Homo sapiens: one gene and its partners. The protein of the gene in region 1 purifies or fractionates together with the protein of each later gene. This does not show direct contact. Each region holds a gene or a part of one and is shown in the gene's direction. Other genes may lie near its edges. The genes, in order: SH3BGRL, FLII, UACA, ACTR2, ETFA, WDR1 and PLS3.

Region 1 (3,500 bases):
TAGCTATACAGTAAATTATATTGGTAACTATAGCCACCCTATTGTGCAATTGAACAGTGGATCTTATTCCTTCTATCTAACTGTATTTGTGTACTCATTAACCAACCTCTCTTAATCCTTCTTTCCCCCTACCCTTCTCAGCCTCTGGTAACCACCATCCATTCTACCCAATATCTTCATGGGATCGACTTTTTTAGCTCCCACATGGGTGAGAACGTGTGGTATGTCTTTTGTCTTTCTGTGTTATGTCTTAGTTCACTTAAAATAATGTCCTCCAGGCTCATCCATGTTGTCACAAATAACAGAATATCATTTTTATGGCTGAATAATATTTTATTTTGTGTGTGTATATATATGTGTGTATATATAAGTGTGTGTATATATATGTGTGTGTGTGTGTGTGTATATATATATATATATATATATATATCACATTTCCTTTATTCATTCACCGTTGATGGACACTTAGCCACATATCATAGTTATTTTGAATAGTTCTTTAATAAACATGGGAGTGCAGATATTTCTTTGATATACTGATATCCTTTCTTTTGGATATATACCCAAAAGTGAGATTGCTAAATCATGTGATAGTTCTATTTTTGTTTTTTGAGGAACCTCTATGCTGTTTTCCATGGCAGCTCTAGATCATGTGGTAGTTCTATTTTTGTTTTTTTGAGAAATCTCTGTGCTGTTTTCCATAGCAGCTGTACTAATTTACATTCCCAGCAAAAGTGTACTAGTATTCCGCTTTCTCAGTGCCCTTACCAGCATTTGTTATCTTTTTGGTAATAGCCATTTTAATTGGAGTGAGATGTTATCTCATTATAGTTTTGATTTGCATTTTCCTGATGGTTAGTGATGCGGAACATTTTTTCTTATACCTGTTTGCGATTTGTATGTCTTCTTTTGTGAAATGTTTATTGAAATCATTTGCCATTTAAAAAAATTGGATTATTTGTTTTTTTGTGGGTTTCTTTTTTGCTACTGACTTCCTTATATATTCCACATATTAATCTCTTGTCAGATGGATAGTTGGAAAATATTTCCTCCCATTTTTAGGTTTCTCCTTACTCTATTGATTGTTTCCTTTGCTGTGCAGAAGCTTTTTAGCTTAATATAGTTCCATTTGTCTATTTTTACTTTCATTGCCTGTTTTTGAGGTTTTACCCAAAAAATCTTTGCCCAGACCAATGTAATGGACTTCTTGATGGTAACCATAATAATGATAGTCAGTAGAAGCCCCTAAGTATGTCAGATACTATCTCATTTTTAAAAATAATCCTTTGAATTAAGCACTATGATTATCTCTGTTTTTCAGAGAAGGAAATACAGTATACAGGTTCAAAGAGTAAATAACTTTCTCAAGGTTACACAGTTGGTAAGCCATAGAGCTTGAATCCAAGCAAGATGTTTGAATCCAAAGAATATGTACTTAACCACCAAGAAATGCATCCTCCCAGTGATTTATGGCAACTAGTAGGCATGAGGAAATAAATTTGAACACGAGTAAGAGGTAGGGGAGGAAGTAAGTCCTGTAAGTGGAAGAAGAGTTGCCTGGGCATGTGCATATAGGGGAATAGAGAAATGGGCAGCTAGTGTGTAGGAGGGATATTGTGTCTAAAAGGGAATGTCTGTAAGTAGGGTAAGTGACTGTTCACCCAAGGCCAAGAAGATAGAGAAGACCTACACAGTTGGAAAGCCTAAACTGGTCTGGTATAGGTCAAGGTATAAAATTCAGGCCTTAATACTGTTTAGTTTGATGGGAACCATTTAACAAGAATGCAGCTTCCAAGTAGTCTGTCTATATGAAGTGATTTCTGCCTGTTCAGAATTGTTTATACATGTCTTAACTCACTGTGACACAGGTATATGCCACGTTTTGTTTCTTGAGATTGTAATGCCTTGTAAATTTACATTTAATGGAAAATGAATAGTAATCTCAGAGCCTATATAAGTTAATAAATTGCAATAACTTCTTAACAAAAATCAACATTGGCCTAGGATGAGAATTGCTAGAGAGATGATAGCTTGGAGAATTTTAACTGGTTTGGGAGTTTTTTCCCTATACATATTTCCCCAAGACCCATAATGATCTCCATTTCATGGCATCTATGCATTCTATTTGTGCCTTGGTGTAGAAATTTTAAGATTGTGGGAAATAGATGATTTCTTAGGGTTTTAATTGTGAAGTAACTTTTAAAAATTGATGTATTTTATATAACTGATAAAACAGAAGCTAGTTGTAGCTTGGATTGTTCACAAATATACATAATTTTTCTCTATGGTTGTACTCTGCACAATTTATAACAACAGATAAAACAATGTTCTGGATTGTGTAATTAGTCACTAGTCACAGTATTTTCTTCATCTGGATAATATAGAAGAGCAAGACACAGTTCTTCATTATGTGGTTCTCAAATAATTGTACTTTAGGCGCAGAATGTTTTGCTGCTCTGTCTGTATTTATACATTAAACATTGATTTTGTGTATGCAAGGATTTTTGTCATATCTTCCAAAGTTTGTTTGAATGTTGTTTAAAGGTGTTCATAGAAGATGTTCACTTAGAAGACTAAAATTAGAAACTGTTCACCAAATGACTGGGACATACTTTTTGGAGGTCCCTAACAGTGGAAAATGGCAGCTTTCACATGGCAAATGTGGAGACTCAAGATCAGTGCTTTCAAATTGATGCTTAGTATTTGATGGCTGATTTCCTAAATTTCACAGAAACATTGGAAGAATTTGGCCCAAAAAGAGGCTGATCAGTGATCAGTGATGGTGATTCTTGGGCATTTAAAAAGATGCTTAAATGTTACATGGTTGTAGGGAAGAATATATTGTGAAAGTTTAGTAAAAGATTAATTATCTGGGCCGGGCACGGTGGCTCACATCTGTAATCCCAGCACTTTGGGAGGCCGAGCTAGGCGGATCACGAGGTCAGGAGTTCAAGACCAGCCTGGCTAACACGGTGAGACCCCGTCTCTACTAAAAATACAAAAACAAAAAAATAGCCGGGCGTGGTGGCGGGCACCTGTAGTCCCAGCTACTTGGGAGGCTGAGGCAGGAGAATGGCCTGAACCCGGAAGGCAGAGGTTGCAGTGAGCCGAGATCGTGCCACTGCACTCCAATCTGGGTGACAGAGCGAGACACCGTCTCAAAAAAAAAAATCATTATTTGGTAGAAGAGAAAGATAAAATGGACTTATTTCTAGCACAAAGACTAGTTACTTTGTTGAGGAAGGGTTTTGATCAATAAACCCTCCACCAGGGTTAGCCTAGGGAAAAAATAAATAAACCTCAAATGTCAATCAGATTGAATGTTCTCTGTAGCTAATCTTTAAAATCTTTTATGAAATATATATTGTGCAATTAACCAAGTATCATTTACAAAAACATTTCCTGCTTTAATGGAATTATCAAGGTTGAATTTTGTATTTCATTTCTTACTGATACAAGTAAACAGATTAAGAGAGAAGCTGCTGGTTAACTATCTGACC
Region 2 (3,500 bases), on another chromosome or scaffold:
TGGCGGCTGCAGACAAGAGCAAGAAACTGGATTGGTGTGTCTGGGAGGTAGGACCCAGGCTCAGTGCCGGCTCTGCTCACCCTATGGGGCAGGTCCTGGATGTGCGGGAGAACCCCAACCTGGTCATGCCGCCCAAGCCCGCAGACCGTGCCGCTGAGTGGTACAACATCGACTTCTCGCTGCAGAACCAGCTGCGGCTAGCGGGTGCCTCTCCTGCTACCGTGGCTGCAGCTGCAGCTGGTGAGTGGGGAAAGGTCTGGCCTGGGAACGGGGGCTCCTCTCCAGGCCTCAAATGACACATCTGTAAATTGGGTGGCATACAGCTTTCTGGACCCTGGTGGGTGGAGTTGGCCCCTGGTTGGTCGCATGCCCAAGGGGGCAGCAGGCCCAGTGAGGGCTCAGCTGTTTGCCCCTCCCCTAAGCAGGGAGTGGGCCCAAGGACCCTATGGCTCGCAAGATGCGACTGCGGAGGCGCAAGGATTCAGCCCAGGATGACCAGGCCAAGCAGGTGCTGAAGGGCATGTCAGATGTTGCCCAGGAGAAGAACAAAAAGCAGGAGGTGAGCCAGGCCAGGGTTGGGACAAGGCAGGGAGCCTTAGCTTCTGCTGAAGGCCGACCCTGGCCTTGACCCTGGCCAAGAGGGACGGGGGGTGCTGGGCAGAAAGAACAGCTGTGCAAAGGCCCTGAGGTGTGGGTAGCAAGTAAAGACTGGCCTGAGTGGCTTCACAGAGTCAAGCCGTGCTCTGTGACTCTGCCCCCAGGAGAGCGCAGATGCCCGGGCCCCCAGCGGGAAGGTGCGGCGTTGGGACCAGGGCCTGGAGAAGCCCCGCCTTGACTACTCCGAGTTCTTCACGGAGGACGTGGGCCAGCTGCCCGGACTGACCATCTGGCAGATAGAGAACTTCGTGCCTGTGCTGGTGGAGGAAGCCTTCCACGGCAAGTTCTACGAGGCTGACTGCTACATTGTGCTCAAGGTGAGGGCTGGGCATGCTGTTAGGGGCCATGTGGCCCAGTACCTTCCTCTAAGATGGCTCAGTCCCCAACTCCAGAGTTTTGTTCAGGGAGGCCAGGTGGGAGGTGGGCAGGCTGCAGGAGGTGGTCCAGGCACAGGGGCAGTACAAAGCCCCTGGGGCTGGGAAGCCTGTGCTGTTCAGAGTGGCGTCTCCGGGGTGGCCGGAAGACCAGGATGAAAGCTGATGTGGCCGGTGCCTTGGCTTCCAGACCTTTCTGGATGACAGCGGCTCCCTCAACTGGGAGATCTACTACTGGATTGGCGGGGAGGCCACACTCGACAAGAAAGCTTGCTCTGCCATCCACGCTGTCAACTTGCGCAACTACCTGGGTGCTGAGTGCCGCACTGTCCGGGAGGAGATGGGCGATGAGAGCGAGGAGTTCCTGCAGGTGCCAGCCCGTTAAAATTGGGGGTGGGCAGAGTGGGGTTCCCAGGGAACTCTGGTGCAGGGGCAGTGGGCCCAAGGCAGGTAGGCAGAACAGGTGGGCAGGCAGGGAGCTGGGGTTAAAGGGGGTGGATCAACGATACTGTGCGGGACCTAAGGCAGACCGCAGGGTGAGGTCTAAGGTGGCCAAAGCCTGGGTCAGCAAAGGAGAGTTCTGGAACGCGGGGCAGAATTCAGCCGGGCAAGGATAAGGGTACAGGCTGGGCATGGGAGCTAGACCAGTGGGCTGACACAGGGGAGCTGAGAGTAGGGTGGAAGGGGTGTTGCCAAGAGCAGTGAGAAGGCAGGGCCAAAACCTGTTATTAGGAGGCAAGGACACACCTGGATGCCAAGGAGGTGGGGCCAAGGGCGGGACCAGAGTCCAGTCTTGAATAAATTACTGAGCAGTGTTAGCCGCCAGCTGGTTACACCTAGACATATGTTCGCATGTACACACACGTGGAGTTTATGCACACACCCCACCCGCCCCGAGTTTTTTTTACCCACATTCACCCAGGTTTCCACTCTTCCATGAACCCACTTGCTTGTGTACCCTGATATGCGTGCATCTAAACATGCTGCTGGCATCTTTACAAACGTGGGTGAACGTGTCCATATTTTTCATACATCCCAACACCCCGACGTGTGTATGTTTATAGACACAGATGTGTATGTTTTATTTTAGACAGACTCTCGCTTTGTTGCCCAGGCTGGAGTGCAGTGGCACAATCTTGGCTCACTGCAACCTCCGCCCCCAGGGTTCAAGCGATTCTCCTGCCTCAGCCTCCCAAGTAGCTGGGATTACAGGCATGTGCTACCACGCCTAGCTAATTTTTGTATTTTTTTAGTAGTGATGGGGTTTTGCCATGTTGGCCAGGCTGGTCTCGAACTCCTGACCTTAGGTGATCCACCCGCCTTGGCCTCCCAAAGTACTAAGATTACAGGCATGAGCCACCGTGCCCAGCCAGATCTGTTTTTTTTGTTGTTGTTTGTTTGTTTGTTTGTTTGTTTTAAGACAGAGTTTTGCTGTTGTTGCCCAGGCTGGAGTACAATGGCACAATCTCAGCTCACTGCAACCTCCGCCTCCCAGGTTCAAACAATTCTCCTGCCTCAGCCTCCCGAGTAGCTGGGATTACAGGCATGCACCACCACGCCTGGCTAATTTATGTATTTTTAGTAGAGACAGGGTTTCTCCATGTTGGTCAGGCTGGTCTCCAACTCCTGACCTCAGGTGATCCACCCACCTCAGACTCCTGAAGTGCTGGGATTACAGGCATCATAGATTTGTAGCACTCAATTCACCTGTATGCAACTCTGTACCCCCACCTGAGGGGCAGTGGTTGGTGGGGGAGGGGGCAGCTCAGTGATGAAGAACCACACCCTCACACACACAGGTGTTTGACAACGACATCTCCTACATTGAGGGTGGAACAGCCAGTGGCTTCTACACTGTGGAAGACACACACTATGTCACCAGGTGAGGGTGTGTGGGCAGTGGGGGGTATGGACCTGGAGTCTGCTGGCAAGGGGTGGAGGGGAGGGTGTTGGGGCTAAGTTAGGCCCTTGGTGCCTACACTGAGCCACTCTTGCCCTGCGCCCAGGATGTATCGTGTGTATGGGAAAAAGAACATCAAGTTGGAGCCTGTGCCCCTCAAGGGGACCTCTCTGGACCCAAGGTGAGCCCCAACAATGTGAGGTGGGGGTGCTTCATCCTCAGCCTCCTCCCCACCAGTGGGGGCAGGTGTGGGCCTCTTAGAAGAGGAGGCCCTCTAGCAATTCCTGCCCACGAGCTTGGCGGGGGGTCCCTGGGGCTTACCCAGAAACCCCATAGTGAGGGATTTTTTTTGGTGGGGTCAGGAGCATGGGGTGACCATTGCCCCATGCACCATCACAGCTCCTTCCTGCCCCTTCTTGTCCAGGTTTGTTTTCCTGCTGGACCGAGGGCTAGACATCTACGTATGGCGGGGGGCCCAGGCCACACTGAGCAGCACCACCAAGGCCAGGTACAAGGACACCGTGGGGTCTTTTGTGTGAAGGAAAGGGGTGTGAGCCTCGCTGATGACT
Region 3 (3,500 bases), on another chromosome or scaffold:
GGGTACAGTGCCATCTCCTACTCTGAACCTGTCCATTTCTGTACTGCAGAGGTCCCTTGCTTTATTTTTGCTTCTGTATTTGATACTATTTTAGTTGGTGTGCTCTAATAATTTCTATCCAGAATTCTCCCTATCTCTGTCTGTAGGTCTAATGTATCATGGTGCTTGTTGTATTACAATTCTGAAGTTTATGGTCACAAAGTATCTGAAACACACCCCTTCCATTTAATTCAAGTATTACAATAAATTAAACTAAAATTTCTGGGATTTTTGTAGTTACTAGTAAAAATTTTGGTTTCTTTTGACTTAATTTTATTCTTCCAAACATGTATTCTATTGTTTGTAGTTTATTAGAAGTATAAAAGTATAAAAAATAGTCTTTAGTTGTCAGATTTTATAGCTGTAATTGTTTTCTTTATGCATCTCAAAGGAGGAAATTCTGTACCTAATGCTAAATGACGAGTTAATGGGTGCAGCACACCAGCATGATGCATGTATACATATGTAACTAACCTGCACATTGTGCACATGTACCCTAAAACTTAAAGTATAAAAAAAAAAAAAAAAAAAAAAAGAACCCTGGCTTCTACAACTCCCCTTATCTTAACTCAAGCATTTCTTTATATTGACTTCAATTCTCCAGACAAAGCTTAATGCTTTCAATCAATTCCCAATCAGGAAATCTTTGACTTGGAAGCCCCTACTTTGAAATGTCCTGACATTCTGAGCTAAACCAATGTATACCTTATATGTATTGATTTATACCTTTGCCTGTAACTTTTGTCTCCCTAAAATGTATAAAACCAAGTTGTAACTCAACCACCTCCGGCACCCATTCTCAGGACCTCCTGAGGCTGTGTCATGGGCCATGGTTGCTAACATTTGGCTCAGAATAAACCTCTTTAAATATTAAAAAAAAAAAAAAAAGATGTGATTAAGAAGTGGCTTTTTAATATTACTTTGTTTTTGTGGATACTATCATCTGATTCCAAGCATGATGAAGAAAATTGGATTTTAAAATTAAATTTTACGGCTGGGCGCGGATCACTTGAGGTCAGGAGTTCAAGACCAGCCTGGCCAACATGGCGAAACCACATCTCTACCAAAAATACAAAAATTAGCTAGGTGTGGTGGTGCGTGCCTGTAATCCCAGCTACTCAGGAGGCTGAGGCAGGAGAATTCCTTGAACCCAGGAGGCGGAGGTTGCAGTGAGCTGAGATCATGCCACTGCGCTGGCAACAGAGCGAGACTCTTGTCTCAAAAAAAAAAAAGTTAAATTTAATTTTAGGATCACAGAGGGATAATCTGGTTGATCTACATACAGTGCTTTATATTTTTTATAGCTCTCACATTTTTCAAAGCACTTTATCTATGTTTTTTCATTGGGCATTCACAAAAAGCCAATGAAGCAGGGCAGTGTATATTGTATAGACTAAATAGCATATGGTTTTCAACATAATTTATAACCTTAGTTTCTAATACTCTATATTCATTTCTTTTTTTCCTGTTTTATATGTAGCATTTTTTAAATAACAAAAACTTTGTTAATGCCTGTTTTGTACAGAATTTCTTATCAGCAACTACAGGGGAGTTGGGGGACAAGGCTTGAATATGAGAAACACAGCATACATAGCAGAGAAAAGGCAAGAGTCAGTTTCCTTAAGAGATCCAATATTCACAATTGAAGACAGAGTTAGATATAGGATATGTCATTTCATTTCATTACGTGTTGGTTAGCCCCATCCTAAAAAATAGAGGATTAGACAAAATAATTTCTAGGGTCCTTCTAGATTTTCATGACAATTATTTTGTTGCATGATTAGTATTTGCTGATGTACTGTGAGATGTTTGAGTGCCAGTGGTTCTATTGCAATAGAATAAAGCAATGATCCATGTTGCATGGCGTTAGTTGTAGTCTGAAGATGTGAAGGTCTTCAGGTAGAAGAATCAAGGTTCTTCTAAGCAGGAACATCAGGAATGGAATCTGATACTTCTCTTGGAGGAGAAGGGATTCTTAGGGGAGGTTTGCATGATGTGGTTCAGTTCATGAAGGGACTGAAAAAGTTGGGTTTTGATCACATGGGGTGACAGTATCAGTTGTGGAAAATTTTTGTGGTGATTATTTACGTGTAGGACATTGAAGAAGTGGAATAAATGAGGTTGGTTTGGTAGTAGAAGTAATTAAAGGATATAAGGATATAGAAGACAAAGCAAATGTTTTTATAAATGCAATGAATATAAAGTAAAATCTATATCTGTAACAGGCATGACTTCTTAAAGTAGTGTCTATTCTTCAAGAAGGGAGCATGTCTTAGTGTTCAAGTAAGTGTTCAAGTAGTGTTGAACACTTACTTGAACTTAGTGTTCAAGTAGAACTACAGTTTATAAGAAGCAAAACATTCCTTACTGATAAACAGTATTGGTTCATCTCCCTCTACAACATGGATTTGCTTACTTACATTATAGTCACTTGCTTTGAGGCAGTGTGTGTTGCATATATAATCTAGTTTATCCAGTGAACACTAAGACAGTGTTCAACAATAGGGCAGAATATTTCTGCAATATTTCCTTGGAGTTTTCTCAGTCTTTTGCTCTTCCATTTTTCCATTTAGAACTGCCCTCATGCTAGGTTGCGAATATGGTTGCAGAGATGCAGTAGAAGTCTTAATTAAAAATGGTGCTGATATAAGCTTGCTGGATGCGCTTGGCCATGATAGTTCTTACTATGCAAGAATTGGTGACAATCTGGACATTCTAACCTTGTTGAAGACTGCATCGGAAAATACCAACAAAGGTATCAGCAGTTTTCTGTAACTAGAAAAGTCCACATTAACAAAGAGCCACTTTTTAAAAGACTTAGGTAGTAGAACTACAGTTTATAAGAAGCAAAACATTCCTTACTGATAAACAGTATTGGTTCATCTCCCTCTACAACATGGATTTGCTTACTTACATTATGGTCACTTGCTTTGAGGCAGTGTGTGTTGCATATATAATCTAGTTTATCCAGTGAACACTAAGACACTGGAATAACTTCAGAACTGAGAAGGAAGAGTCAAGTGTTTTACTAAGTTTTTTTTTTTTTTTGATGAAGAGGGGTGAACCTCCCAACTTTTTATACTTACGAAGTTTTAAAGAATCATTGTTTAAACATGTATGTAAAATAGTCAGCTGATATTTACCAAATGCCTATGCCATGATTTTTTATGTTTTTTTTAAAAAAAACAGGAACATACAGAAAAGCACAATGAATAGTCACTCATTACCACTGAGAAGCCTCTGTTAACATTTTGAGAAATATCCTTCTAGTCTTTTCCCATTAAATTGAATTCACTGTAAATCTGAATTGTAGCTTACTTTTTTATGTAACCTATTTTGAAGGCCTTTCCCTCAAAAATAGTTTTTCTATAGTATGATTTTTGTTGGTGTATGAGATTCCATTTATTTAAGTTTCATTTAATAAAGCAGTTTTCTACATGTAGTGTTTAAGCTATTTATAA
Region 4 (3,500 bases), on another chromosome or scaffold:
TACTTATGAATTGTTAATTCTTTTACCCTCTCTGAAACTGAAATATAAATCCTTTTATGGCGGATAAAATCCTGCTTCTGAAATAGTAGGAGCTGAGGATCCACTGCCCATTCTGTTTGTTATTGATGTGACATATTTAATGAGCATTACTAGCTTTTGCAGAGTAGAACTCATTCAGATGTATTATGAACTTATTGCTATTGTTTTGTACCAGCTACTTCTGTTGCGAGGATACGCCTTCAACCACTCTGCTGATTTTGAAACGGTTCGCATGATTAAAGAAAAACTGTGTTACGTGGGATATAATATTGAGCAAGAGCAGAAACTGGCCTTAGAAACCACAGTATTAGTTGAATCTTATACAGTAAGTGTTTCCAGTGTATAATATATATGTGTTTTAAAGTGGACAGCCATGATTATTGGTGTCAGCTTAAGGAGGTTTTCTTAGAATCAGTATTTTTGTCTTGGGTTGTTGTAATATGTATATGTGTGACTTTTAATGTCTCTTTCTACATTAAGTTTCTATTTAATTATTTTAGGGCACCATATAATGCAAATTAAGGCAAGAATCATAAATTACTCTCTATACTAGGATATAATTAGATGCGAGATGTTATTTTGAGATTCTAGTATTTGGCATAGCATTTCTCAATGTATGTTTTACAGAACTTTATTTCCCTGAGATGCTAATAAGCATTTCACAAAAATTAAAAAGGATTACATTGTCAGATGAGTTTGAGAAAGAGTTGATTTCACTTCACTGTAGAACTCAGAGCCTTTGGTATGCTAATATGGGCACAATTAATATAGTATGCGTGTTTTTCAGACTTATGCTCTAGGACTTTTCAGAATTTCATGGGATTAGTGATCTAAGAAACATACTTTGGAAATGGTCATTCTAGAGCATTGCTTTACTAATTCAGTAGGTGGCAGCCTTTCCTGACTTAATATTCTTTAATGAGGTGTTAAATGTTAACTTGAAATTGTAACTAATGAGATTTAGTACCTGGTTATAGTTTATAACACCAGAGGAGTTGATCCTACTTGAATTTTTAATGAATTACCATCTTAAGCCTATTAAATTTGTCTGAGTATAAAGTACTTCCAGGTCTCATCTTTGATCTAGTTATTACTAAAATGAAACAGTAATAGGCAATGAAGGCAAGTATTTTAAAACCATATGATGCATACTAGCTCTACATATTCACAAATATATGCAAAATAGTCATTTTTAAAGTAATTATAAAAAATTTGTTGTTGGCCGGGCGCGGTGGCTCACGCCTGTAATCCCAGCACTTTGGGAGGCCGAGGCAGGCGGATCACCTGAAGTCAGGAGTTGGAGAACAGCCTGGCCAACATGGTGAAACCCGTCTTTACTGAAAATACAAAAAATTAGCTGGGCAAGGTGGTGGGCACCTGTAGTCCCAGCTATTCAGGAGGCTGAGGCAGGAGAATTGCTTCAACCCAGGAGGCAGAGGTTGCAGTGAGCTGAGATCGTGCCACTGCACTCCAGCCTGGGTGACAGAGCAAGACTCCATGTCGGTAAAAAAAAAAAAAAAAAAAAAGTTAAGATAGTGATCCAAATATTCAGTAAACCCCCATTTAAAATTTTTTTAAATTTATTTTTTATTATACTTTAAGTTCTGGGATACATGTGCAGAAAATGCAGGTTTGTTACATAGGTACACATGTGCCATGGTGGTTTGCTGCACCCATCAACCTGTCATCTGCATTAGATATTTCTCCTAATGCTATACCTCCCTCCCCTTGCCGCCCCCCACCCAACAGGCCCCATGTGTGTTGTTCCCCTCCCTGTGCCCATATGTTCTCATTGTCAGCTCCCACTTATGAATGAGAACATTTGGTGTTTGGTTTTCTGTTCCTGTGTTAATTTGCTGAGAATGATGGTTTCCAGCTTCACCCATGCCCCTGTAAAGGACATGAACTCATTCATTTTTTTATGGCTGCATAGTATTCCATGGTGTATATGTGCCACATTTTCTTTATCCAGTCTAACGTTGATGGGCATTTGGGTTGGTTCCAAGTCTTTGCTATTGTGAATAGTGCTGCAGTAAACATATGTGTGCATGTGTCTTTATAGTAGCATGATTTATAATCCTTTGGGTATATACCCAGTAATGGGATCGCTGGGTCAAATGGTATTTCTAGTTCTAGATCCTTGAGGAATCACCACATTGTCTTCCACAATGGTTGAACTAATTTACACTCCCACCAACAGTGTAAAAGCGTTCCTATTTCTCCATATCCTCTCCAGCATCTGTTGTTTCCTGACTTTTTAAGGATCGCCATTCTAACTGGCATGAGATTTTGTGGTTTTGATTTGTATTTCTCTAATGACCAGCGATGATGAGCTTTTTTTCTTATGTTTATTGGCCACATAAATGTCTTCTTTTGAAAAGTGTCTGTTCGTATCCTTTGCCCACTTTTTCATGGGGTTATTTGTCTTTTTCTGGTAAATTTGTTTAAGTTCCTTGTAGATTCTGGTTATTAAGGCTTTGTCAGATGGATAGATTGCAAAAATTTTTTCCCATTCTGTAGGTTGCCTGTTCACTCTGATGATAGTTTCTTTTGCTATGCAAGAAGCTCTTTAGTTTAATTAGAACCCATTTGTCAATTTTGGCTTTTGTTGCAATTGCTTTTGGTGTTTTAGTCATGAAGTCTTTGCCCATGCCTATGTCCTGAATGGTATTGGCTAGGTTTTCTTCTAGGAGTAAACCCATTTTGTAACTTAATCATCTCCAGATTTGCTCTGGAGATTCCTTCCTGAAGTCTTCTTGACAGTTTCTCTAGTTGTCTGATTTTCCATCTACCTGACTATTTTGGAAGAAAGTGGCTGGCACAGGGCAAAAGATAAGCAAACTAGGAATGTAAAACATGTTTTATTTCTTCCTTCTCTCTTTTCTCAAAGAATTTGAGGTAGGCTACAAAAATATATACAAATAGGCTGGGTGTAGTGGCTCACACCGGTAATCCCAGCACTTTGGGAGGCTGAGATACGAGGATCACTTGAGGCCAGGAGTTCATGGCCAGCCTGGGCAATATAATGAGACCCTGTCTCTACAAAAAAAATACAAAAATTTGCCAGGCGTAGTGGCACGTGCCTGTAGTCCTAGCTAGTTGAGAGGTTGAGGTGGGAAGATTGCTTGAGCCCAGGAGTTCAAGGCTCAAGTTTTGAGGCAGAGAGCTAGGATTGCACCACTGCACTCCAGCCTGGGTGAAGGAGCGAGACCCTGTCTCAAAAACAAAACAAAATCCATATATATATTTGATATATATATGCACACACACACATATACACAAGTATAAAGTAATAAGCTGATGAATAAGTGAGGAGGGACATGGGTGGACAAATACAGAACAGGATAAGATTTGGTGCAAAGAAATGGGATGCCTGCAGTTTTAACAGTTCATTAAGGTGATTAGAAAACTTGACCCCATGCTGGCCAGCAGCCAGAGAATGGAGAGAAGCCACACTATCA
Region 5 (3,500 bases), on another chromosome or scaffold:
GTGTTCCCCGTGCATCATATTAGCAGGTACTTAATGTTGGTTTATCCCATTAGTGGTAATGCTGACTTTAGTTACTTAGCCAAAGTGTTGTTTGCCAGGTTTCTCCACTGTCAAGTTAATACTCCTCCTTTTGTAATTTTTAACTAATTTGTGAGGCGATTCATTGAGACTATGTGACTGTCCTATTTCTCATCAGACTTTTACCCAGTCTTAGCATCTGTTGATGATTTTTGCCTGAGAAATGATTACTATGATGCAAAATGGTGATTTTCTATTTCCATGATACCTTCGTACATTTTTTAGTTATTCTACTATAAGGAAGAACATTATCTTCTTGCATATTTATGGATTTATGGATACATGGATCCTTATTTAGGATAATACATTTCTACCTTATGCTGAAGTTGTCTCATGTTTGTAAAGTGGGGCCCATTCAATCTGACTCCTGTTTGTTTACATATATATGTTTGTGATATCACAAAGTCAAAATAGCTTATCTCAAGTCCCCACTCTTGAAATTAAAAAAAAAATGTTCTGTAGCTAACCATTAATGCATTTAGGAAGAGGATACATTTCCAAAACCATATTTAAAAAAATAAAGTTAGGAATTACAGTTAAAAGATTACCATAAACTGTTAACGATGTGCATATAGTTAACACTTAACACTTAAAAATGGTTAAGATGGGGCCAACCATGGTGGCTGACACCTGTAATCCCAGCACTTTGGGAGGCTGAGGCAGATGGATCACCTGAGCTCAGGAGTTCGAGACCAGCCTGCGCAACATGGCGAAACCCCATCTCTACCAAAAAAAAAATTAGCCAGGCGCCATGGTTCACACCTGTAGTCCCAGCTACTTGGGAGGCTGAGGCACGAGACTTGCTTGAACCTGGGCATTTGAGGCTGCATTGAGCCCAGGTAGCACCACTGCCCTCCGGCCTGGGCAACAGAGTGAGACGCTGTTTCAAAAAAAAAAAAAAAGGTTAAGATGGTAAATTTTATGTATTCTTTTAAACCACTTTGTTAAACTATTAGGATATAAGTTCAATGACTTGCATTTGGTATCTAAGTTCCATTTTTAGTTCTGACTGATTTGTGCCATTGAGTAAAGTCTTTCATCCTTATGTGTGTGGCAATGGTCTTTAAAGTCATCTGTTAACAAAGATAGTTTTTATATCTATAATAAAGAGCTAGAGAACACACCAAGAGGCAAATAGGTAGGCATTTGCAGTTAGTTAATATTCTTGCAGGGATATTAATCCTAATTATTGTTATTTATTAATTTGCTCTTGAAATTGATTTATTGAAGAATAAGAAGATGCAGAAAAATATTTATGTGGTGAGTGAAACAACAATTTCAAGGTCATTTGAGTACTCTTTTTACTGTGTTTATTGTCAGGTGGGAAGGAATATCTATCAGGACTGAGAAGCTATGAAACTGGTGTGAAGGAACATGACACTTTTCTGTCTAGTATTGATGAATAAGATTGAACTCTGTAATTTGCATGCAAATTTTAATTTCTATTGAAAGAAGAAAGAGAGCCAATTTTGGTGTGATTCTAAAAGAAAATTTATTGCATAAGGTGAATTCAGTAAAATTATGATGCCTGCCAATGTGTCTACTAAGAGTCTTGTCCTTTCTTAAAGTGAAGTAAATTGACTGTGTTTTTAGTATTACAGTCAATGTCATATAACATTTCTGGTCATGATTAAAAGCTGCTATATTTTATTACTAAAAGGATTAAAGGAAGTATTTAAAGTACAGAAATATACATTTTAAAAATTACAAAATGTATGTTAAAATAGGGATAGGTGACTTTATATATTATCCTTTTGGGTATGACTCAGAAAGATTTTATAGCTTATTCTTGCTGTTTTTCTTTTTTTAATTAAGAAGCAAAAAAACCGGCTGGGTGCAGTGGCTCATGTCTGTAATCCCAGCACTTTGGGAGGCTGAGGTGGGTGGATCACGAGGTCAGGAGTTTGAGATTAGCCTGACCAACATGGTGAAACCCGTCTCTACTAAAAATACAAAAATTAGCTGGGTGTGGTGGTGCGTGCCTGTAATCCCAGCTACTTAGGAGGCTGAGGCAGGAGAATTGCTTGAACCCAGGAGGCGGAGGTTGGAGTGAGCTGAGATCGCGCCACTGCACTGCAGTCTGGGCGACTGAGCGAGACTCTGTCTCAAAAAAAAAAAAAAAAAGAAGCAAAAAAACCCTCCCCTGCCCTCTATACCCTCATTACACCTAGTTTCCAAAGATGGTTGGGGTGGAGGTATAGGTTACAATCATTCTTACTACTTTAGGTTATGAGTGGGTTTGTAAGGGTAGAGAGTTAGATTCCAGCTTTTTTTCTTCTTCTACCATCTGTGGTACTTTACTATGTGAATATACAGTTCAAGTCACAGCAAGAACTCTAAAAAACTGACAAGCAAAAACAATGTCAAAAATGAGGCTGATGCTGGGCACAGTGTCATGTGCCTGTAGTCACAGCTACTCATGTGGCTGAGGCAGGAGGATCACTTGAGTCCAGGAGACCAGCCTGAGCAACATAGCAAGCAAGACCCAGTCTCAAACAAATACCCACCCCCACAAGAAAAAAAAAAAAACAACTATTGAGGTTGAAAAAGAGAAGGACCAAAATGTGTTCATTGGACTTAGCCATAATGAAGTTTTTGGTGACTTTGGAAAGATTGGATTCAGTGTTGTGAAGGTGAAAGCCAGTTTGCATGAGTAACTGAAAAAATGGAAGGTGAGGTAATAAGAGTTGGTGTCTGTGGAAATTATTTTCAAGAAATTTAGCTTTGAAAGGGTGCAGAGAGGGTGATAACCTCTTTAAATCCTGCCCACAAGAAGTATACTATCTTATAAAGGCCAGTCAACTTTATATGGGTATGTGGCTGGCATGAGAAAGAAAACTTCATATTTTGCTATTTGCAACCAAGTCTAAACAGAGTATAGAGAACTTCTCTAAAAGCATGATGGTGTGTCTGTTTTAGTGATGTAACAGTTTATGTACTGTTTAGTTACCCTTATACATGTTTAGTTGATTACATTATCAATGAGGAAACAGTTGCTTTTTAGTTTTTGATAATTTTAAGAAAAGTTTTCATTTAGTTACTATTCATTGAGTGCCAACTGTGTGCCAGAGAGGTAGATACCAAGTTCACAGTGGAGAACAAGACAGACCTAGTCCCTGCCCTTGTGATGCAAACAGATTAAGGAAGAAACACATTATTTTAAGTGTGGTCATTGTTACAGAACATAGAGGGTGTTTGGGAGAGGTTTAATCTTGTTAGAGGACTGGAAAACACTGAAAGGATATCTGTGAAATTATGTTTGCACACTGAGGTGCCTTAAACTATTGTTACTGAGTGATAAAGTAATAGAGCGGAGGATTTTCTTTCTTTCTTTCTTTCTTTTTTTTTTTTGAGACAGAGTCTCACTGTTGCCCAGGCTGGAGTGCAGTGGCGCCATCTCGACTCACTGCAGCCTCTGCTGC
Region 6 (3,500 bases), on another chromosome or scaffold:
GGTATCAGCCCAGGCTGCGTGTTAGAACCACCTGGGAGCTCTAAAAAGCGCTGGCTGCTGACGCCCCCAGAGGCACTAAGTTTACAGGGAAGTCTCAGGGCAGCAGGAGCTTGCAGGCCTCCAGAAGGAACACCCGTGGGCATCTGGGCATGGCTAGGAGTGTTTCTGGTAAGTTCAAGGCATTGAGCCTGCACACAAGTCTCTTGGCCTCTTGCCGAGTGCACGTTCTGATTTGGCAGGAAGGTGGGCCTGAGCCCTGCTGGTGGGGGCTGTGCTGGTCTGAGGTCCGCGCTGTAAGGGACTGGTGGGATGCCACATTGGAAGGAGGCCGCCCAGCTCAGTGTCTCTTACTGGGGCATGTGATGATTTTTCCCCACGTCTCTGTGGAAAAGATGAAAGTAGCTGCATTCGTTGCCCATTCTCCAGTCCCACTGGTAACTGTGTACCTGTCTCCAAGGAGACCTGCATCCAAAGATCTATGCCATATTGTGGCAACATGTGGCATACCACAGAGATCAAGAATTCCTGCGGAAAAGCCCTGAGCTCAGAGGAGAGGGGCCAGCCAGGAGCTGGCCTCCCTTTGCAGGAGAAAGGCATGAGGAGCCTGCACCCTAGCTGTTATTTTTGTCTCAGGCTCAGATATGGAGGGGGCTAAACGCCGCCCTCTGGAAGCAGCTGTCTGGTTGTGGACCAGCCTTGTGTGCCCTCCACTGCAGCAGTCAGGGAGGTTAGGGTAGGAGCGTCAGCGTTCACGGACAGCCTTGGGCTTTTACAGTGATCAGAGAGACCCCTGCCCTCAGCAGGGCCAGCACTCCTGGGCAGGGAGAGAGAAGAAACCTCACAAACCAGGGCCTGAAGCGAATGTGGCCAGCGAAGTCCTCCTGGACCGACCCCCTTGTGGCTCCCCGCGACGGGTGCTGGTCGGCGGGGTGCAGGCCACGTGTCTGCACACGTTAGGTGCTCAGGTGCTGACGTGCTGGGCCTTGGTTAGACGCAGGTCTGGGCCCAGGTCTGGGTTAGGTACCTTGGAGGGAGGGGAATGAAGGGCAGGGTCTGTAGGTGACTGGGTAGCTTTGGAAAGGTTTCTTAGGGCTCGTGGGCCGTGCATTCGGGCAGCTGGGGCTACTGGGGCCTCAGAGCACCTGCACTGCCATGGATTGAGGGGCGTCTGCCCCCTCCATTACCCAGAAGCTTCGTTGGTGGAAAGCGGGTGGCAGAGGGCAGGGCAGTGTGTCATCAGCTTACCCGCCCAGTGTGTCTCCTTCACAGGGTCACAGTAAATCGATCCAGTGTCTGACGGTGCATAAAAACGGCGGCAAGTCCTACATTTACTCTGGGAGCCACGACGGACACATTAATATCCTTTGACTCAAAGAGCTGGCTCCGGAGCCGCTGGCTCTAGGGGGGAATTTCCTGTTCCCATGATGCCAGAGGCCAGGCCAGCCAGGTGGCTCCAGCTGCAGCCACAGCCACACGCTCTTCTGACCCGTGTGGCTTCTAGGGGTGGCCTGTCTGTACATGGGGACAGGCAACTGTCCCCTGGAGTTGTCCTTGGCAACTCCAGGGCTTATGCTGAGGAAAAGCCATGGGCGGCTCCGACCTGATCAGTCCCTTCTTGTCGTGCAACCCTGAGAGTGTGGCTTAACGGCCCTGAGCTTGGGCTGCCACTACCTCTGCCAATGGCACCTGGCGCCAGCCTTGGCCCTACTCCACATGGTGGGTTTCTTGATTCCTAGAATTCACAAGCACCTGGACACCCTTACGTTGGGTCCCCTTGTTTTAAAAATAGGAAAACCAGAGCCCAGAGAGCTGATGTGCCCGCCCCAGAGTCATGCAGCCTGTGGTCCACAGAGCCAGGGCTGGAGCTCCTGCGAGGTGCCTTGTGGCCCTTCGGTGATGTTCCCTGGAGGTGTTTGTGTCCCCCTTATAAGTCCTTGTCTGGGTTTCTTTAAATGAGTCCTGGTTTCTCCCTGATGATGGGGGCTTCTGTTGTGTTTTTCCTGCATGGCCTGGGGCTGGTGACACCCTGCTCACGGGTGTGTCTTGAACCTTGGAGCCACCATCTGCAGAGTGCCTGGGCAGGGATGCCCACACACGTTGCTGATGATGGCACCTGCTGTGCGTTGTTCTGCTGCCCTCCCTGAGCACCGTGCTGTGTTGGAGACTGCCTTTTGTGTGGACAGCTCTGGTCCGCATGTGCTGTACCTCCCAAAGGGACTGTCCGGGACCCAAGGAGGTCCCCCCAGGCTGGGAGAGGAGGGCAGACATGCCACCCTCTGCCCCCAAAACATAAAGAAATGTGGGGTTAGAGGGTTGCGCCTACCCGATAACTAGTAGCAGAGGAGACGCCGGAGCCTCCCCAGCTTGCTGGTCCCCAGTAGGCCTTCAGCACGGCTCCCTTTCTGCCTCATCCCAATCCCTGTGTGGTGCACCCACACTTCAGATACCCCTTCCTAAGAACGTGTCAACAGTGGACACTGCAGGCTTCCCAGGGGGAATGGTTATGTCCGTTTGCGGCGAGATTCTCATTCTTGATGTAAATGGAGAATCTTAGGACTGAAGCCACACCTGAGAACACCCAGCAGTCCTGGGAGCCGGGCTTTTCCTTAACCCCACCCTACATTACTGGGATTCAGAGACGGGGGAGAACGACTCCTTCGCTGGGAAAGGCCACACGAACCAGGTGTCCAGGATGACCGTGGATGAGTCGGGGCAGCTCATCAGCTGCAGCATGGACGACACCGTGCGGTACACCAGCCTCATGCTGCGGGACTACAGGTGAGAGCACTCGGGTCTGCGGGGGTTCCGGATGAGCCTCAGCTCCCCTCGGAGGGCTTGTGCCCTCCAGCAGTTACTGTTCTGGAGGACGCCTCACTTGCTCCTTTCATCTCTCCCACCCCGTCCCCAGCATTGTTCTCCTGTTGTTGGGCCCTGAGCCCAGCACTGTGTTACAGATCCAGGTGGTCTGGGTAATGCTCTTGCCCACAGACAACGACCAGGTGTGGACTCTGCCCTGGAAGCAGGGGCAGCAGATCACAGCCCTGTTCTCCAGGAACCTGCTGCGGTCTCTCCCTGTGTCCCTTTCCTCATCAGTAAAGGCGGGTACAGTGGAGCCTGCCTCAGGCTGTTGTGGATTAGGTGAGCCTGGCACAGGGCAGGTGCTGAGTACAAGACAGCATTCCCCTTCTGCTCAAGGGTGAGATGGGCACACAGTGATCTGGTTAAAAGACAATGTCTTGTTTGTTTTTGGTCTTGGGCCTTTGATTGGCAGTCAGTGGAGCTAGGAGAGTAGCAGTTTGCAAGTGATCTGAAGTCCTAAATGCAGTTGGAGGGACTTGAAAGAGAAATGTTCCAGGACCTGACGAGGCCACTGCACATCCAGTGTCCCCATGCCCAGGTCTGACCCCTCCTCTGGCCCTACATTTCTTGTGTAGACCCCTTTGTCACCCGGTAGTCCTGCCTAAGTCGTGTTGCCTGGGAGATGGGGACTCCTGGGGCCT
Region 7 (3,500 bases), about 34 Mb from region 1:
AGCTATTAACTTGGATTTTCTTTTCTTTTCTTCTTCTTTTTTTTTTTTTTTTTTTTGAGTCAGGTTCTCACTCTGTCGCCCATTCATACTCTGTCCAGTTCATTGAAAATACAAGTCTGATTCCCTTGAGTTGTGATATTCATACACACACGAGTATATATACACTTATGTGTGCATATGTATATTATATAAAGTTTTACGTGATATATAATATAAGTTTTTACTTTCTGTAAAATAAAATTTGTTAGGGCCGTATAATAGTTTTGAATATTCATATTATTGTGTTCCACATTATAAGCTCTAATTACATCGTGTTGCACTCAGATTGACATTCTGCTGTTGACACTGAAAATAACGCTTTCATTCATAGATGAATGTAATTTTCAAGCTTTTTTTCTATATTTCTTAACTTGCTTGAATGTTCCCATTTTTGCCATTTCTTGTTGTTCATTTTAACATTTTGGGGCTTGTGTTTCAGATCAGGAAGAATCACCATTATAGGGTGCAAAGAGTTTGCTCAGAGGTGAAAATGATACGAAATTGTCCCTAGAGCACATCCTATTGCTATACTATTCAACATGTATGAATTAATCTACTGGGAAAGTGTCTTGTGTAGTGTGTACTTTAAAGATGTTTTCAATCACTTTGCTTTGGATTAGAAAAATTCAAGGTAACTATAATTTTAAATGCTCATATTTTTATGTTTATTTTATATGTAGGAAGAGAAATTTTTAAAAATTGGAATAACACTATATCCCATTCTTTTCATTTATTACATTATAAACATGTTTCCAAGTGATCAAATATTTTTAAAAATGTTTAAAATCACTGCAGTATATTTTATATAATGGCTGTTTCATAATTTATTTCACTAATTCCAAGTTGTTGAACATTTGTTTCCATATCTTACAGATAATGCTTCAGTAAGCATTCTTGATCGAACATCATTTTGCACTCTATCATTTTTTAGAAGTCACCAAGAATGTTTTAAAGATGAATTCCTTTGATAGTCCCTGAAATTTAAACATTGGCTTAAACAAAAAGATAGCCTTGATTTCAGTGGCATTTAAAAAAAGAAGGCTGGGCATGGTGGCTCAGGCCTGTAATCCCAATACTTTGGAAGGCCAAGGCAGGCAGATCACTTGAGGTCAGGAGTTCAAGACCAGCCTGGCCAACATGGCAAAACTCCGTCTCTACTAAAAATACAAAAAAACTAGCTGAGCATGGTGGCGCACGCCTGTAATCCCAGCTACTTGGGAGGCTAAGGCAGGAGAATCGCTTGAACCCAGGAGGTGAAGGTTGCAGTGAGCCAAGATTGCACCACTGCACTCCAGCCCGGGCAACAGAGCACGACTCCGTTTCAAAAAAAAAAAAAAAAAAAGAAGAAGAAAAAAGAAAAGGCCATTCTTTATATAGTGTATTGTATCATATGTGACTCTAAACTGGAACTTGTTTAGGTAAAGTATATGTCTTGGAAGTATTTTGGTTTTCTCTGATCTAGTTAGCAGGTGCAGAGCAGGATGAGGTAGGATTCTGTGCTGTGTACAATCATAGGAAGTTCTGTTTTTTGAAACGGAACTGTTAATGGGGGAAGGGAGACACGTTTGTTTTTAAGAAGCCTTTATGTTTAATATTATTATAAAACTCAGTTCAAGTATACAAAGCTTATTTGTGCCTATGAACATTCAGTATCCTAAAGAAACATTTAATCCTGGTGTTGGCTAAATGACTATTTGCTGATATGCCCTTTTATCTCAAGGCTATTAGTTTCTTAAAGTACTTTGATATCACTCAATAAACTACAGTTAAACTCAGAGTTTTACATTTCATTCAGGTTGCTTAAATAATATAACTAAACATAGGTCCAATAATAGTAAAAATTCTGATGCTGTCACTTAATTTGTGCCTGGTTTCAGTATATGGCGATTGCTTAAATTACAAGCACTTGAATTTACAAATATTTTGTGTATTTAAATGGCTCATTGTACATTACATATCCCTCCTGAAACTTAACCCATGCCATTTCACAGACCCTTCCATGGTGTTTTTCTCTTTCCTCCAGTTCACTAGCCTCACTCACCAAAGACTTTATTGGTCTGGGAATTCTATTATGACCCAGAAGTGACTTGGAAGGTTCCTTTCACCCAACAACACATTCTCACTACCTTTCTTTTCTTTTCAGGGGCATCATTTACATGCTATGTTGCACAGTCAGAATGGATTTTAGCATAAAGTATGGGTTCCAATAGCTCTCGCATTTTATTATTTATTTATTTGTTTAGAGACAGAGCCTCACCTTGTCGCCCAGGCTGGAGTACAGTGGCACAATCTCGGCTCACTGCAACCTCCATCCCCCAGGTTCAAGCGATTCTCCTGCCTCAGCCTTGTGAGTAGCTGGGATTATAGGCTCCTGCCACTGTGCCCGGCTAATTTTTGTATTTTTAGTAGAGATGGGGTTTCACCGTCTTGGCCAGGCTGGTCTTGAACTCTTGACCTCGTGATCCACCTGCGTTGGCCTCCCAAAGTGCTGGGATTACAGGCATGAGCCACCGCGCCTGGGCCAGCTCTCCCATTTTATATCTCTGTGGCATTGAGGAGGTTTCTTAACTCTCTGAACCTCAGTTACCCCATGAATAAAATGAAGATAATACACTCACTTTTCACTTTGTTCTCATAATTATTATATGAGAACACTTATAAAGCAACTAGCATATGGTAGGTGCTCAATAAGTATTTTCATTTACAGGTTGATTAATGTTGCCTTAGATGATTTTTGTCAGGCATCTATATCTACCTCTTTTTCTCTAATTTGAGTACCTTCCTACCTTCCTTTTTTTTTTTTTTTTTTTGGACAGAGTCTTGCTTTGTCGCCCAGGCTGGAGTGCAACTGTGCGATCTCAGCTCACTGCAACCTTGACTTCCCGGGGCTCAAGCGATCTCCGTGCCTCAGCCTCCCGAGTAGCTGGGATTACAGGCGTGTACTACCATGCCTGGCTAACTTTTTTTTGTAGTTTGTTTTTTAGTAGAGATGGGATTTCCCCATGTTGCCCAGGCTGGCAAGATTTTAGAAATTAGTGGGGTTTTTTGTGTTTTATTTAATGGTATTGGAAAAACACTCCTTTTATTGTTTTTCATTGTGAATGTGAAGGATTCTAGCCATGTTTCAGGTTGAAGAAGCTTCTTCGCTTAGCTCAGAAACCTGTTTATCGTTTAATTTATTCTTTTTTTTTTTTTTTTTTTGAAACGGAGTCTCACTGTGTCGTCCAGGCTGGAGTGCAGTGGCGCGATCTCAGCTCACTGCAACCTCCGCCTCCGGGTTCATGCGATTCTCCTGCCTCAGCCTCCCGAGTAGCAGGGACTACAGGTGCCCACCACCATGCCCTGCTAATTTTTTGTATTTTTAGTAGAGACGGGGTTTCACTGTGTTAGCCAGGATGGTCTTGATCTCCTAACCTCATGACCACCCACCTCGGCCTCCCAAAGTGTTGGGATTACAGGCG

Evidence for each region.
Region 2: the proteins of SH3BGRL (region 1) and FLII purify together in Homo sapiens (affinity purification with mass spectrometry; one large-scale study listed by BioGRID and IntAct). This does not show direct contact.
Region 3: the proteins of SH3BGRL (region 1) and UACA purify together in Homo sapiens (affinity purification with mass spectrometry; one large-scale study listed by BioGRID and IntAct). This does not show direct contact.
Region 4: the proteins of SH3BGRL (region 1) and ACTR2 purify together in Homo sapiens (affinity purification with mass spectrometry; one large-scale study listed by BioGRID and IntAct). This does not show direct contact.
Region 5: the proteins of SH3BGRL (region 1) and ETFA fractionate together in Homo sapiens (co-fractionation; one large-scale study listed by BioGRID). This does not show direct contact.
Region 6: the proteins of SH3BGRL (region 1) and WDR1 purify together in Homo sapiens (affinity purification with mass spectrometry; one large-scale study listed by BioGRID and IntAct). This does not show direct contact.
Region 7: the proteins of SH3BGRL (region 1) and PLS3 purify together in Homo sapiens (affinity purification with mass spectrometry; one large-scale study listed by BioGRID and IntAct). This does not show direct contact.

What each region holds. Positions count from the first base shown.
Region 1 is NC_000023.11:81,205,102-81,208,601, forward strand, and holds part of SH3BGRL (adapter SH3BGRL), read left to right. Parts: intron 1-3,500. UniProt on the Homo sapiens protein: Appears to function as an adapter protein that bridges proteins together or proteins with mRNAs. May function as a ubiquitin ligase-substrate adapter.
Region 2 is NC_000017.11:18,248,739-18,252,238, reverse strand, and holds part of FLII (protein flightless-1 homolog), read left to right. Parts: intron 1-92; coding exon 93-240; intron 241-422; coding exon 423-559; intron 560-761; coding exon 762-974; intron 975-1,221; coding exon 1,222-1,401; intron 1,402-2,830; coding exon 2,831-2,913; intron 2,914-3,037; coding exon 3,038-3,112; intron 3,113-3,355; coding exon 3,356-3,439; intron 3,440-3,500. UniProt on the Homo sapiens protein: Is a regulator of actin polymerization, required for proper myofibril organization and regulation of the length of sarcomeric thin filaments. It also plays a role in the assembly of cardiomyocyte cell adhesion complexes.
Region 3 is NC_000015.10:70,683,559-70,687,058, reverse strand, and holds part of UACA (uveal autoantigen with coiled-coil domains and ankyrin repeats), read left to right. Parts: intron 1-2,612; coding exon 2,613-2,794; intron 2,795-3,500. UniProt on the Homo sapiens protein: Regulates APAF1 expression and plays an important role in the regulation of stress-induced apoptosis. Promotes apoptosis by regulating three pathways, apoptosome up-regulation, LGALS3/galectin-3 down-regulation and NF-kappa-B inactivation.
Region 4 is NC_000002.12:65,255,331-65,258,830, forward strand, and holds part of ACTR2 (actin-related protein 2), read left to right. Parts: intron 1-214; coding exon 215-364; intron 365-3,500. UniProt on the Homo sapiens protein: ATP-binding component of the Arp2/3 complex, a multiprotein complex that mediates actin polymerization upon stimulation by nucleation-promoting factor (NPF).
Region 5 is NC_000015.10:76,304,970-76,308,469, reverse strand, and holds part of ETFA (electron transfer flavoprotein subunit alpha, mitochondrial), read left to right. Parts: intron 1-3,500. UniProt on the Homo sapiens protein: Heterodimeric electron transfer flavoprotein that accepts electrons from several mitochondrial dehydrogenases, including acyl-CoA dehydrogenases, glutaryl-CoA and sarcosine dehydrogenase.
Region 6 is NC_000004.12:10,082,300-10,085,799, reverse strand, and holds part of WDR1 (WD repeat-containing protein 1), read left to right. Parts: intron 1-1,269; coding exon 1,270-1,357; intron 1,358-2,621; coding exon 2,622-2,778; intron 2,779-3,500.
Region 7 is NC_000023.11:115,567,674-115,571,173, forward strand, and holds part of PLS3 (plastin-3), read left to right. Parts: intron 1-3,500. UniProt on the Homo sapiens protein: Actin-bundling protein.